2 linked regions of the Homo sapiens genome follow. The protein of the gene in region 1 interacts with the protein of each later gene in a biochemical or structural test. Each region holds a gene or a part of one and is shown in the gene's direction. Other genes may lie near its edges.

Region 1 (3,750 bases):
GGGAGAAATTGGTAACTTAGAGAAGCATCACAAAGAGTGCTCTCTGAACTTCTGTAACTTTTACCTAATTTTTTATACTAAAAGTTTATGATACAGGTTTTGGGGTTTGTAGCTTATTTAATCTACTTGTTTCTCTCCACAGCAAGACAGATCGGCTTGCCAAAGGATCAGAATGTTACCAAAAGAGCCTTAGTTTAAATCCTTTCCTCTGGTCTCCCTTTGAATCATTATGTGAAATAGGTAGGTGGGTGGGGTTGAGAGGTGGGTGGGTTCCCATCTCCTCTTCTTTTTTTCCTGCTACTTAATTTTTGGAGAGCAATACAGATCATCTACCCCCAAGAAAAATATTTTTCAAAGTTAAAATTGAGAATAAAAAATAAGTTAGAATCTTCGGTATGTTTCAAGAATCATATAACTGAAAATTACACAAAGATTAAATCCAGTAGATTCTTCTGTTGAACCAATCTATTTTCAAGTATCTGGTGTCCTCTAGAATGGGTTATATTGTGTGTTTAACACTAGCAAAATTGCTTTCTGAATAAGAAAATTAATAAAATTTCTAATGCAATTAATAAATGCCTGAAACTTACAAGACCTGAACAGTACAGGGAGAGAATTTCTCAGTATATTTGGCCTAGGATACATAAAGGACCATTTTTCAGCATTGTTGCATCTATGTATATATAGAAGGGCTTCAACCTTTACTGTAAAATATGATGGGTTTTAACTCTTCAACCTCATCTCCTACTTTGAGAAAAATGAGATCTAGTTATTTTCAGCTTTAAAACAAACACAGAAATCTGCATTTTTCTGCGATTTGTTATGTTTAAAATTAGTGTTCTTGTAGTTTATTTTCATTTACAGCTTTATCTTACTGGTAAACTTTTATGATATATTGATAGATGGGTTTTTTGGGGGTAAATTTGATTAGCAGAAGTGGACAGGAGATTTTTAAAGTTTGGATAAGGCCTATTTCCTGTTTCCACTGATTTATGCATACTTGAAAAACATGTATTCCTCACTTCCTCAGAGACAAACTTTTTTTTTTTTTGTCTTCACAGGTGAAAAGCCAGATCCTGACCAAACATTTAAATTCACATCTTTACAGAACTTTAGCAACTGTCTGCCCAACTCTTGCACAACACAAGTACCTAATCATAGTTTATCTCACAGACAGCCTGAGACAGTTCTTACGGAAACACCCCAGGACACAATTGTAAGTGTCTTATATTCTAGTGTTCAAAATATTATGAAAACTACAAAGAATGATCTGAACTAAATAATATATTGTGAATGACTTGGTAGAAATTTTCTGTTTCAGGAATTAAACAGATTGAATTTAGAATCTTCCAATTCAAAGTACTCCTTGAATACAGATTCCTCAGTGTCTTATATTGATTCAGCTGTAATTTCACCTGATACTGTCCCACTGGGAACAGGAACTTCCATATTATCTAAACAGGTTCAAAATAAACCAAAAACTGGTCGAAGTTTATTAGGAGGACCAGCAGCTCTTAGTCCATTAACCCCAAGGTAAGTCAAACAAGATACTTTCAAATGTGCTATAATACCAAATGATCTTATGATAACTCATATTGTTAGTAATGCAGATTATTACAACAGCAACTTCTAAATCACTGTGGAAACAGGGGCATTCTGTTTTCAGAAAATGAAGTAAAAACTGGCAAATAGTGATGTTGCCAGGTGCGGTGGCTCATGCCTGTAATCCCAGCACCTTGGGAGGCCAAGGCAGGCAGATCACCTGAGGTCAGGAGTTCAAGAACAGCCTGGCCAACATGGTGAAACCCTGTCTCTACTAAAAATACAAAAATTAGCTGGGCATGGTGGCGGGCGCCTGTAATCCCAGCTACTCAGGAGGCTGAGACAGGAGAATTGCTTGAACCCGGGAGGCGGAGGTTGTAGTGAGCCGAGATGGAGCCACTACACTCCATCCTGGGCGACAGACCAAGACTCCAACTCAAAAAAAATTGATATTGAATATTGGACTGGCCAGGCGCAGTGGCTCACGCCTGTAATCCCAGCACTTTGGGAGACCAAGGTGGGCAGATCACGAGGTCAGGAGATCGAGACCATCCTGGCCAACATGGCGAAACCCCGTCTCTACTAAAAATACAAAAAACTAGCCGGGTGTGGTGGCACGCGCCTGTAGATCCAGCTACTCGGGAGGCTGAGGCAAGAGAATCACTTGAACCCGGGAGACAGAGGTTGCAGTGAGCCGAGATGGTGTCACTGCACTCCAGCCTGGGAGACAGGGCAAGACTCCATCTCAAAAAAAAAATTGGAGGAAAATTTAAAACTCTGAAATATTCCTTAATTAGGTAGTAAACACATTAAAAAATACTGTCTTTATGGCTGTGCATTAATGGATAGCGGTGAGCCTCATGAAATGTTATAATCAGGGCACCACTGGTTACTGTTAAAGTGCCTTTTTCCAAAACATGGAGGAAATTTGACACCTACCTTTTTTTGTTTGAGACAGGATCTCACTCTGTCACCCAGGTTAGAGTGCAGTGGCACAATCATAGCTCACTGCAGCCTCAAATTCTTGGGCTCAAGCGATCCTCCCACCTCAGACTCCTGAGTAGCTGGGACTGCAGGCACATGCCACCACACCTGGCTAATTTTTTAAGTGTTTTTGTAGAGATGGGGTCTTGCTGTGTTGCCCAAGCTGATCTGGAACTCCTGGCCTCTAGTGATCCTCCTGCTGTGGCCTCCCAAAGTGCTAGGATTACCGTGAGCCACTGAACCTAGCTGTCACACCTATTAATATAAAATATTTTATCAAAATTATTAGAAGTATATGTATGTATAAATACAGGAACTCAGCCCAGAGGATACATATCCAAAAGTATCAAAATGAAAAATTATGTGCTAGAATGGGTTGGGCATGGGGGCTCATGCCTGTAATCCCAGCACTTTGGGAGGCTGAGGTGGGCAGATCACTTGAGACCAGGAGCTCAAGACCAGTCTGGCCAACATGGTGAAACCCTATCTCTACTAAAATTACAAAAATTAGCCCGGCATGGTGACACATACGTGTAATCCCAGGTACTTTGGGGGTTGAGGCACAAGAATCATTTGAACCCAGCAGGTGGAGGTTGCAGTGAGCTGAGATCATGCCACTGCACTCCAGCCTGGGCAACAGAGCGAGACTCTGTCTCAAAAAAATATATACATATATGCTAGAAGAAATTCTATGAATCAGGTCCTGAGGCCGGGGAACTACTAAAATAGCATGACCATGAGATTACAACTCTGGAGAGTTATAGTTATCTAATGGTCTCTAGAGACATTTTCTCTGTAGTTGTGTCTAAATCCCATAAATTCCAAGAATTTGAAGTAATCTCATCATTTGGATCTTAGATTTATAAAGCTACTCTTCTTTATTTCTAATAAATCTCCTGAGATCAGTAATTGTTGCTCAGTTTAGTTCCTTGTTTGATAGCTTTTTAAAATTTTAGTTATGGTGGGTGGAATAGTCTACATTCACAGCTTATTTTTAATCTGCCCCTCAGATCCTCACTGTCCCTAAGACTGATTTGCCATTCTCTTCCTTTTAGACCTTCTAATTTAAGTATACTGCTGCTTTATATATGCCTTGATGACTTTTTGACACCTTGATTTCAACCTCTTCTCAGTTTTGGGATTTTGCCATTAGAAACCCCAAGTCCTGGAGATGGATCCTATTTACAAAACTACACTAATACACCTCCTGTAATTGATGTGCCA
Region 2 (3,750 bases), on another chromosome or scaffold:
GAAATTGAAAGTAGAAGTTCTGAAAAATAAATCATATTTAGAACGCCATTGGTAGCTTAAAAATGGTTTTAAACCTGAATTTGAAGAAAATGTTGAGACCACGATGTAACCAAAAAGAAATAATTGGGTTATTTCTATTCCAAATGTCTTTGGTGACTGTGTGATTTTAAACCAAATTGGTTTATCTATCTAGGCATTTAAACAAGTTCTCAGTGTTCTAAAGAAGTACATGTACTGACCCTGACAATCATGTTCTTTTAAGCCTTTAGATTATTGACTATCCAGGTTGTTCCACAGAGTCTCTTTTTTTCCCCCTTCTTTCTTGAAGATCTGTGAGTAATGGACTAATTGCTATTAAATTTGGGAGCTTTACATATGCCACAACAGAAAAAGTCAGAAGAAGGTAAGTCTTGAATCTTGTTTGGATGAAATGTAGATACATGTGATATGTGTATATGTTTAGGAATAGGATCAGACTCAGTTACGGTGGTAATATAGGTAAAAGGGCTTTGCCACTTCCCACATCAAGGGCAGGATTCTTTGTGTATTTATACATAGAGAATGATTTGACTTGTGATTGAATAGAACCTTACTGCCCTGCAGTTTATGTCGTACGGTTTCCTATAATTAATACTCCTGAGCTCCCTGTTGACAAAGAAAGTAATGTGGTTCCCATGGGCAGATGGCCTGCAGGGCTGAAGTTCTTGTTACGACCAAAAAAAATTATGAGGTGATGCCATTCTTAGTGATGGGAGATTTTCTTAGGATTCAAAATGGTAACAGTACCTAAGCCATCCCTGAGGCTTCGCAAGGGAAAGAAGTGACTAATCATAGGCTGATCTTTTTCTCACTTTTTTCCTCACATAAAATAAGTTTTTTTATGATAAAGTCCTTGGAGTTGCTGTGCCTATTTTTCATGTGTAGTATCTTATTTTTATTTCTCAGTCTAGTCAACTCTGCTGAATGTGTATATAAGGTGTCATTCATAGAATTTCCACAGGCTTAAGGCCTAACCATTGATGGCCAGGGGCTTTCTAGAACTGAAACAACTTCACAGATTTTTGGGGGTCATGATTACCCATTTTTAAGATTTGGTTATATATGTGAATAATCAGTACAAAAAGTAACTGATTTTAATACAAACCAATGATATATTTTAAATGTTATTGTACAGAATGTCACTTAACTTTTAAATTTTTTTCTGCTTGCTGCCAGTATAACATGCATACAATATTTTCTCAGTAGTCACGATCATCTTTGATATAACAAAACTTATTTTAATTCTAGCATCTACAGTTGTTTAGATGCACAGTTTTATGATGATGAAACTGTAACAGTAGTTCTTAAAGACACTGTAGGACGTGAAGGAAGAGATAGACTCTTGGTCCAGCTGCCTTTGTCTTTAGTATATAACAGTGAAGATTCTGCAGAATATCAGTTCACTGGGACTTATTCTACAAGGTAACTAGTAACATTGTCTTTCTGATATTACAGTTAAATGTTTTTTTAATGCACATTATAAATTCCAACCTTTTAGGTACGCTAGATAATGGTTATTTCGTTACTAGAGATAACCACAGAGGTAGCTGAGCAGAAATGCTCCAATTTTTCATTCAAAATATGCTGGCCTTAATAGCTTTTTTTGTCCCTTTGCTTTACTAGTAAATCAGGAAGTATTTGCTGGAATCAAGGTGGGGAATTATTTGGAGTGGATAATGGGACTTCTTTTAGTTACATTTTTAAGGATAGCATTAACCCTAGTTGGTTGGAATTAGTTATTTTTGATTTGCCTTCAGTATTTTCCTTCCAGAATTAAGACCTCAGTACCCATGTAGGAAGTATACTGTCAATTCCAAGAGATGGCTTTAATTGACTGAGACTTAAGTAAGCAGATCTCTAATTTAAAAATGTATCCATTTGCTTTCTTTGAAAGGGAGTCAGAAACCTTGCTAAGATGATATTCTGCCTGTTTGGAATTACAGTATTTCTTTTCTTTTTTTTTTTTGAAACAGGGCCTCTCTTTGTCACCCAGGTTGGAGTGCAGTGACGCAATCATAGCTCACTGCAGCCTCCAACTCATGGGCTCAAGTGACCCTCCTGCCTCAGCCTCTCATAGCTGGGACTACAGGCATGTGCCACCTTGCCTGACTAATTTTATTTTTTTACAGAGATAGAGTCTTACTATGTTGCCCAGGCTGGCCTTGAACTCCTGGACTCAAGCAATCCTCCCACCTTGGCCTCGCAAAGTGCTGAGATTCCAGGCATGAGCCACTGTGCCTAGCCAGAATATAGAATATGGAATTTTTATAGAATATTATATCACAGCTTTTTTTCTAACACAACAGTTGCTAAAATTATATTGGAAATAGAAGTATGAGTAGAAGTCAAAACCATAATTGACCCTAATACCACCTGTAGTAAAACTAGGGAGGATAAGATCCCCTTTTCATTCCTGAGTTGGTTTTTTTCCCTCTTTAGGCTAGATGAACAGTGTAGTGCTATTCCCACCCGTACCATGCATTTTGAGAAGCACTGGAGATTACTGGAAAGTATGAAAGCACAGTATGTTGCTGGGAATGGTTTTCGAAAAGTGTCCTGTGTGGTAAGTGTTTAGAGATCGTTCAGCAACTAAGAAATTACAAGAAGTAACGTTGCTTCTTTGGAACCTTCATCAAATACATGATATATAAGGTCCTTTTGTGCAAATATTTTTACTGTGATTTATAGCTTGTATTGATTATGATCATGTGGTGGCCTTAGCTATTTAGTTCTTGTTCTGATAAAGCTTACTAAGTAGTTAATAATAATACTAGATTTTAATCTCACGAAATTGCCACTGTTGTTATGTGGAGATCTTTTTATACAAAATGAAGGCTGAATTTATTGATTTTGTTGTAAATTGATGGGAATATAACTTTCCTATAAAACCATTCTTTGATTCAGACTTCTGATTTCTAATTCTTTATATATGATAAGCCATTAATTTAAAAATGCTTTTATGGCCTTTTCTTTTTTAGTTAAGCTCAAATCTTCGTCATGTGAGAGTATTTGAAATGGACATAGATGATGAATGGGAGCTCGATGAGTCTTCAGATGAAGAGGAGGAGGCCAGTAATAAGCCTGTAAAAATAAAGGAAGAAGTGTTGTCGGAGTCAGAGGCAGAGAACCAACAAGCTGGTGCTGCCGCTTTAGCTCCAGAGATAGTCATTAAAGTGGAAAAACTTGACCCTGAGCTAGACTCCTAATCTAGCTTGCCATTATTGTGTGTGTAATTATGGCCAAAAGGACATAGGAGATGGACTAAGATGTCTTGGACCACCTTTGTGTAACAAAGAAATAAACAGTAAATTTTATTTTTTCATATTCTGCTTCATCTTCTCTTAGTGATATAGTCACTATGATAGACTTTATTTTTTCTGAGCTTTCTCTTTAATGCTATGTGCAGAACTAGTGTTTAAAGAAAACAGGGCCAGGCATGGTGGCTCATGCTGGTAATCTCAGCACTTTGGGAGTCTGAGGTGGGTGGCTCACCTGAAGTCAGGAGTTCAAGACCAGCCTGGCCAACATGGCAAAACCCCGTCTCTACTAAAAATACAAAAATGAGCTGGGCGTGGTGCATGCCCCTATAATTCCAGCCACTTGGGAGGCTGAGGCATGAGAATCGCTTAAACCTGGGAGCCAGAGGTTTCAGTGGGCTGAGATTGCGCCATTGCACTCCATCCAGCCTGCGTGATGGAGTGAGACTCTGTC

What was found.
Region 2: the proteins of CDC27 (region 1) and ANAPC4 form a complex in vitro, tested with the Homo sapiens proteins (2 studies listed by BioGRID).

What each region holds. Positions count from the first base shown.
Region 1 is NC_000017.11:47,154,696-47,158,445, reverse strand, and holds part of CDC27 (cell division cycle protein 27 homolog), read left to right. Parts: intron 1-142; coding exon 143-240; intron 241-1,061; coding exon 1,062-1,216; intron 1,217-1,321; coding exon 1,322-1,533; intron 1,534-3,581; exon of another isoform or gene 3,582-3,659; coding exon 3,660-3,750. UniProt on the Homo sapiens protein: Component of the anaphase promoting complex/cyclosome (APC/C), a cell cycle-regulated E3 ubiquitin ligase that controls progression through mitosis and the G1 phase of the cell cycle.
Region 2 is NC_000004.12:25,415,138-25,418,887, forward strand, and holds the end of ANAPC4 (anaphase-promoting complex subunit 4), read left to right. Parts: intron 1-262; coding exon of another isoform or gene 263-269; exon of another isoform or gene 270-328; coding exon 329-403; intron 404-1,287; coding exon 1,288-1,461; intron 1,462-2,478; coding exon 2,479-2,602; intron 2,603-3,017; coding exon 3,018-3,245; 3' UTR 3,246-3,361; downstream 3,362-3,750. UniProt on the Homo sapiens protein: Component of the anaphase promoting complex/cyclosome (APC/C), a cell cycle-regulated E3 ubiquitin ligase that controls progression through mitosis and the G1 phase of the cell cycle.